2 linked regions of the Homo sapiens genome follow. The protein of the gene in region 1 interacts with the protein of each later gene in a biochemical or structural test. Each region holds a gene or a part of one and is shown in the gene's direction. Other genes may lie near its edges.

Evidence for each region.
Region 2: the proteins of RCC1 (region 1) and ERCC6 form a complex in vitro, tested with the Homo sapiens proteins (one large-scale study listed by BioGRID).

What each region holds. Positions count from the first base shown.
Region 1 is NC_000001.11:28,526,536-28,530,354, forward strand, and holds part of RCC1 (regulator of chromosome condensation), read left to right. Parts: exon of another isoform or gene 1-78; intron 79-398; exon of another isoform or gene 399-703; intron 704-3,322; 5' UTR 3,323-3,331; coding exon 3,332-3,404; intron 3,405-3,819. UniProt on the Homo sapiens protein: Guanine-nucleotide releasing factor that promotes the exchange of Ran-bound GDP by GTP, and thereby plays an important role in RAN-mediated functions in nuclear import and mitosis.
Region 2 is NC_000010.11:49,469,551-49,473,369, reverse strand, and holds part of ERCC6 (DNA excision repair protein ERCC-6), read left to right. Parts: intron 1-341; coding exon 342-461; intron 462-899; coding exon 900-994; intron 995-2,249; coding exon 2,250-2,395; intron 2,396-2,480; coding exon 2,481-3,188; intron 3,189-3,819. UniProt on the Homo sapiens protein: Involved in repair of DNA damage following UV irradiation, acting either in the absence of ERCC6 or synergistically with ERCC6. Involved in the regulation of gene expression.

The sequences.
Region 1 (3,819 bases):
ACATCGTGAAATTCCTTAGCTTTGTCACTAGAAGCAACAATTTCTGTAGGACACACAAAGGTGAAATCCAAAGGATAGGGCTGGGCGCGGTGGCTCACACCTGTAATCCCAGCACTTTGGGAGGCTGAGGTGGGTGGATCACCTGAGTTCAGGAGTTCAAGACCAGCCTCACCAACATGGTGAAATCCCATCTCTACTAAAAATACAAAAATTAGCCAGGCGTCGTGGCAGGCGCCTGTAATTCCAGGTACTCAGGAGGCTGAGGCAGGAGAATTGGCTTGAACCCAGGAGGGGGAGGTTGCAGTGAGCCGAGATCGTGCCACTGCACTCCAGCCTGGGTGACACAGCAAGACTCCGTCTCGGAAAAAAAAAAAAAAAGAAAGAAATCCAAAGGATAGAAGAAAAGCACCAAATATTTCCCCTCAAAGTCATCAAGGCTTAGGTCTTTGAACTCTCCATTGACCACGGCTGTACCCTTAAAATAGGGCGCATGCTGGGTGACATCAGGTGCATGGTATGAGGAACTGGTACCAGAATTTTGCTTGACCGGAACCAGACCACAATATGTTTGTCAAACTTGTTCTTCCAGAAGCAGCAGGCCTGAGGGCTGCAGTGGCAGAAATGCCCCCAAGGAATGGCACTCACATGCCGGGCAACTGATGCTCAGAGTAACCTTCCCACAGCAGCCGCGATCTTCAGTGCATGTGTGTTTTTGTTTTTTTGAGACAGTGTCTGTCTCTTTCGCCCAGGCTAAAGTACAGTGGCACAATCTCAGCTCAATTTAGCCTCAGCCTCCCAGGCTCACGCCATCCTCCCACCTCAGCCTCCTGAGTAGCCAGGACTTCAGGCGTGCACCACCATGCCCGGCTAATTTTTGTAATTTTTTGGATAGAAATGGGGTTTCGCCATGTTGCCCACGCTGGTCTTGAACTCCTGGGCTCAAGCGATCCTCCTGCCTCGACTTCCCAAAGTGCTAGGATTACAGGTGTGGTGGCACCTTGTCTCTAAAAAAAATCAATCAATTAAATAAGAAAAGAAAATAGCTCTTCTCCCCCTCTGATTATAACAACACATTACCAAAGTTACTGGTGCTTACATGGGGTTGAATGGAGTTATGATGGATATTTCATTTAATGTTGTTCTTCAATGTTTTAATTTTTTACAACAGACTTAAAAATTTTTTAAATACATGTGGCCAGGCACGATGGCTCACGCCTGTAATCCCGCACTTTGGGAGGCCAAGGTGGGTGGATCATCTGAGGTCAGGAGTTCAAGACCAGCGGGACCAACATGGAGAAACCCCATCTCTACTAAAAATACAAAATAAGCCGGGCGTGGTGGCACATGCCTGTAATCCTAGCTACTCCAGAGGCTGAGGCAGGAGAATCACTTGAACCTGGGAGGTAGAGGTTGTGGTGAGCCGAGATTGCGCCATGGCACTCCAGCCTGGGCAATAAGAACAAAACTCTGCTTCAAAAAAAAAAAAAAAAAAACATGTAATCGGCTGTACGCAGTGGCTCACGCCTGTAATCCCAGGACTTCGGGAGGCTGAGGCAGGTGGATTACTTGAGATTAGGAGTTTGGGACCAGCCTGGCCAACATGGTGAAACCCCGTCTCTACTAAAAATACAAAATTTGGGCTGGGCACAGTGGCTCACGCCTATAATTCCAGCACTTTGGGAGGCCAAGGCGGGGTGGATCACTGAGATCAGGAGTTCGAGACCAGCCTGGCCAAACTGGTGAAACCTCGTCTCTACTAAAAATACAAAAATTAGCTGGGTGTGGTGGTGGGTGCCTGTAATCCCAGCTACTCGAGAGGCTGAGGCAGGAGAATCACTTGAACCCAGGAGGCAGAGGTTGCATGAGCCGAGATCGCACCATTGCACTCTAGCCTGGGTGACAGAACGAGACTCCATTTCAAAAAAACAAAAACAAAACAAAACTTAGCAGGGCATGGTGATGCACACCTGTAATCTCAGCTACTCGGAAGGCTGAGGCACAAGAATTGCTTCAACCCGGGAGGTGGAGGTTGCAGTGAGCTGAGATCATGCCTGTGCGCTCCAGCCTGGCGACAGAGTGAGACTCCGTCTCAAAAAACAGAAAAATACATGTAATGCTCCTTGTTAAACATCTTAGATAATATAGGAAGATAAAACGAAACAAGTAATGATTATCTATAATACCATTTTCCGAGGTTACCATTGTTAATATGGGATATATTTTCTTCCCCACATTTTTCTCACATATTTTTTGTGTATGCATTTTTTTTCCAAAAAAAAAAAAAATGGATGATAGGCTGTTTTTCTTCCTTTTTTTTTTTTTTTTTTTTGGTTGGGGGGTGGAGTTTCACTACTCTTTCTCCCAGGCTGGAGTGCTGAGTGCAATGGCATGATCTTGGCTCACCGCAACCTCCACCTCCTAGGTTCAAGCAATTCTCCTGCCTCAGCCTCCCAAGTAGCTGGGATTACAGTCGCACACCACCATGCCTGGCTAATTTTTGTATTTTTTTTTTTTTTTTTGGTGGCGACGGGGTTTCACCATGTTGGCCAGGCTGGTCTCGAACTCCTGACCTCAAGTGATCCACCCACCTTGGCCTCCGAAAGTGCCAAAGTACTGGGATTACAGGCGTGAGCCACCGCGCCCAGGCTTTTTTTTTTTTTTTTTTTTTGAGACAGTCTGGCTCTGTTGCCCAGGCTGGAGTGCAGTGGCTCGATCTTGGCTCACCACAACCTCCACCTCGCGGGTTCAAGCGATTCTCCTGCCTCAGCCTCCTGAGTAGCTGGGATTACAGGTGCCCATCACTGTGCCTGGCTAATTTTTGTATTTTTAGTAGAGACGGGGTTTTGCCATGTTGGCCAGGCTGGTTTGGAACTCCTGATCTCAGGTAATCCGCCCGCCCCGGCCTCCCACAGTGTTGGGATTACAGATGTGAGCCACCACACCTGGCCGTCTGTTTTTCATTCTGCTTGTTTTACTTGGCAATGGGGAACATCTTTCTATTCAATAGATTGATCTCTGAAAACATCACTTTTGATGGCTTCATACTGTTCTATCATGAATATACCACATATTTAGTTCACTACTATTGAACATTCGGGTTCTGTTTTTGTTGTTTTTAAAATGTTATGAAGGATACAGTAGAGAATATTTGTGTAATTAATCTGTGGGTGCATCCATTATTCTGTTCTTGGGATACATTTTGAGAAGTGGAATTGTTGGGCAATTCCTCTTAACGTATTTCTAGAGTGTTTGATAAATATTGTCTGATTGGCCCAGGAAAATGTTTGCCATTTCTCATATGTAGTATTTGACTGACTTTCAGGACAGGAAGATGTCACCCAAGCGCATAGCTAAAAGAAGGTCCCCCCCAGCAGATGCCATCCCCAAAAGCAAGAAGGTGAAGGGTAAGTTGGCCTTGGCCTCTTTGTGGGTACAGGTGGCCCCTTGAAACCCTAAGAACCCGGGACTGGGCTCCTTTCTTCCTGAGGCTTGAAGCTGAAGGGTGTGGATGTGCAGAGACCCCACCCAGCTGGAAGGTTTCCTGTAGCTCATTGAATCCTACCCTCTGGGAATCACAAAGTGGGCAGAAACTCCTCTCAAAGCACTCAGGCAGCACTGGCACAAAAAAAAAAAAAAAAAAACTAGACCCTAGGGCTTCACCCCAGGCAGTGATGCATTATGGTTAGGACCACTGACTTTCCGACATGGGTTCAAGTCCTTGCTCTGCCACTTTCTAGCTGCTGGGCAAGTCACTTAATCCCGCAGTTTGGATTATCAACTTCTTAAAATGGCGGCAGCCAGAGCAGCGTCACCCTCTCT
Region 2 (3,819 bases), on another chromosome or scaffold:
TTGGGAGGGGGCCTAAGGGGAGACTTGTTGTTTTTAACTCTATGCCCTACTTCTGGATATTTGGGGGCGGGGATTGTGGGCATGTGTATGTTCAAACAAAGAATGCGTTTTCTACAGCATGTATTTTCCTCCTAAAAACCCAATTTTTAAATATTTCTATTAAATATTAAAAGTAAAAGCTGTGAAATGAGATTTTGATTCACCAGAGGTCTCTAGGACATTACCATTCCTTATATTGGGAACAGCCCAGTAATTCCATGTGTACAATATGTGGAGGCAGAGGCTGAGAACTGTAACTGGTCTTAAGTGTGTGTGCTCAGTGTTGTGTGTCTTACCTCTAGGACACATCCATATTTGTGTTTCTTCTGACCACGCGGGTGGGCGGCTTAGGTGTCAACCTGACGGGGGCAAACAGAGTTGTCATCTATGACCCAGACTGGAACCCAAGCACGGACACGCAGGTTTGTTTTTATTTTTTTTTTAAAAGAATGTATTAGTAGAAATATAGTTTCATGGTTAGCGCTTTTGACTGTCCTTTGATGTTCTGGTTGGCTTCAGCATACGTTTCACATTTTGATTGTCTCCTGTTCTTCAACGTGAAAGAAGACACCCTTCAGAGTCAAATGGACAGGAACCATCTTCAGCAGTTTATCCATAGCATTCATTCCTAGAGTTGGGGTAAAAAGAACATAGGCAAAGTTACAAACATTTTTTCAAGTAGAGATGTCTTTTCAACTGGCTGTTCATCTTCCTGAGTAGGCCTTAGGTGTACTTGACGTCATGAGTCAAAATTCTAACTCTGGGAGTGACAGGTAGTGACCAGCTAGCTTTGTTTCTTATAGTCAGTGCTTGTCATTGGGAAGGATTCTCGTTGAGAGGTCTCTCTCTCTCTGTTGCAGGCCCGGGAGCGAGCATGGAGAATAGGCCAGAAGAAGCAAGTGACTGTGTACAGGCTCCTGACTGCGGGCACCATTGAAGAAAAGATCTACCACCGGTCAGTGCACACAGTGGCCACTCTTGGCTGTGCGTTCCCAGAGTCTTGAGCAGGGAATTTTTCCAAAGTGTTGTTTTTAAAAGTCTTAACATCTTAGAATAATAGTTGCTATAACTTAAGGCTTTGGTTTTTGTTTTGTATTTTTTCTTTCCCTTTAAAATATGCTTAGATGTCTTACTGTGAGTTGTCAAAAAATGTCTTTGAACCTGATAATTTTTGTACCTTATTCTACCTCAAGAATCACATACATGTAAACTTCATATTGTTATTTGAAAGGAATATTTCTGCCTGCTATGGTGTGTTGCCTTCAGAAAAATTTTAAAAAATGACAAGGTTGAATGTTACCATATTGGTGTTTACATACCACATTATGCAGGTAGGATCAGTGTGGGTGTTCTGGCAGTCTTTGACTCTGATGCCCCTTACAAAGAAGTCGACAGGATGGCTGTTTCGTCCTCTGTCTTTCCATAATGACTAGGGGATTTTAGACAGTGGTAACTTCAACAGTAGAATCAAGACATTGCCAGCTTCTCCCACTCCCCCACCACAGACTTTATCCTTGAGCCATAGCCCAGCTTTTATAGGAAGCTCTGTGCCCTTTACCACATGCTGGGCCATTCCTGGAACATTACATCTTCCTCGAGGGAGTGTTGTGTGAGGGTGGAGGACGAGTTGGATCCTGTGAGAAGAGAGCTTCCTTTTATAGATTCATGCTTTAGCTGGGAGAATAAATGACAGGGAGGGACAGGGTGGCTGGTGGAGGTGCCTGTTCCAGAGTGGCAGTGGTGTGGGGCTTCAGCAGAGTGTGGACCTGCAGGTGGGAGCAGGGAGAGAGAGGTCAGAGTGGAGACATTGCAAAGCCCAGGTAAGAGAGTTTGCTGAGCCCTATGATAGGAAGGTTCTAGGCAGGGCAGGACCCTTGGTATTCAAGTCAAGGAGGCTAAGAGAGACTATGAGTCACATGATGGCATGTGAAAAGGTGTTTCTTGAAATGTGTTAGATCTTGGAGGTTGAAAAAGCTCATTCGGTGTAAATAATAAGGTATTATTTCTAATTTAAATTCTGCAAGACCTGGGAGATTAACTGATGTATTATATATTTCCTGAATTGTAATTTTCCAAGGCTGAAAGTTTGGGGGATTATTTAGCCATTCATGCAGCAGCTGTTATCATCTCTCTCTTATATTGCTTTATAACTTGAATTTTTAGGTAGAGCTACACATTGTTTTATACCAGCTTATCTTTTATTTTTTTAGACAAATCTTCAAGCAGTTTTTGACAAATAGAGTGCTAAAAGACCCAAAACAAAGGCGGTTTTTCAAATCCAATGATCTCTATGAGCTATTTACTCTGACTAGTCCTGATGCATCCCAGAGCACTGAAACAAGTGCAATTTTTGCAGGTATTACATAAAATCATTTAATTTAAAGTAATCAATTGCACAAGATGATACAATATAGTATTAGTGGTGTTTTTCCTCTTTACAGGAACTGGATCAGATGTTCAGACACCCAAATGCCATCTAAAAAGAAGGATTCAACCAGCCTTTGGAGCAGACCATGATGTTCCAAAACGCAAGAAGTTCCCTGCTTCTAACATATCTGTAAATGATGCCACATCATCTGAAGAGAAATCTGAGGCTAAAGGAGCTGAAGTAAATGCAGTAACTTCTAATCGAAGTGATCCTTTGAAAGATGACCCTCACATGAGTAGTAATGTAACTAGCAATGATAGGCTTGGAGAAGAGACAAATGCAGTATCTGGACCAGAAGAGTTGTCAGTGATTAGTGGAAATGGGGAATGTTCAAATTCTTCAGGAACAGGCAAAACTTCTATGCCATCTGGTGATGAAAGCATTGATGAAAAGTTAGGTCTTTCTTACAAAAGAGAAAGACCCAGCCAGGCTCAAACAGAAGCTTTTTGGGAGAATAAACAAATGGAAAATAATTTTTATAAGCACAAGTCAAAAACAAAACATCATAGTGTGGCAGAAGAAGAGACCCTGGAGAAACATCTGAGACCAAAGCAAAAGCCTAAGAACTCTAAGCATTGCAGAGACGCCAAGTTTGAAGGAACTCGAATTCCACACCTGGTGAAGAAAAGGCGTTACCAGAAGCAAGACAGTGAAAACAAGAGTGAGGCCAAGGAACAGAGCAATGACGATTATGTTTTGGAAAAGCTTTTCAAAAAATCAGGTAATCCATTTGATACGTTTGCCACAGGGATGCTAGGATTAGAAAATGAGTAGGCTGTTTCTAGCAGTAGCAGTCTTTAACTGATGGTGCATAGAGGGCTGTCAGCCATTAGTGTTTTTCTTCAAAAATTTAGATTTGAAATATATTGACATTTTAAAAATCGTATTTACACCTCTTTTCTGAAGACCTAGAATAATTTGAAACTTTGGAAAACAATAGTACTTATGGCCACTCATGGGAGGTGTGCAATTCTTAAATCGATGTGTACTACCTGAACATTAGTAGGCAGTTACTTTACATGCTATATGCTACATTAATCTGATTTTCCAACCACAGGAGATTAAAGTAACATCATAAGGGAGAGGGACAAGCGTGTGGCTAGAGACAGACATTCTAGAAGTATGAAAGCTGATAGCTTATGTCAAGGGAGAAAAGTTAGGAGATGTAGACTCAACAATTGCTCAAGACCATGGAGTATATAGATAGCCCTGCTTAGTGATCCCTTAGCAGTCACTGTGTTCACAATGTGATGGCCTTGAGTTACCAAAGATTGCTGCTTATGGTACTCAGTTTAAGAAGGCAGGTTTATGTGTAGCATTTCAGAAAGACTTTTATTTAGCATGGTTAATTT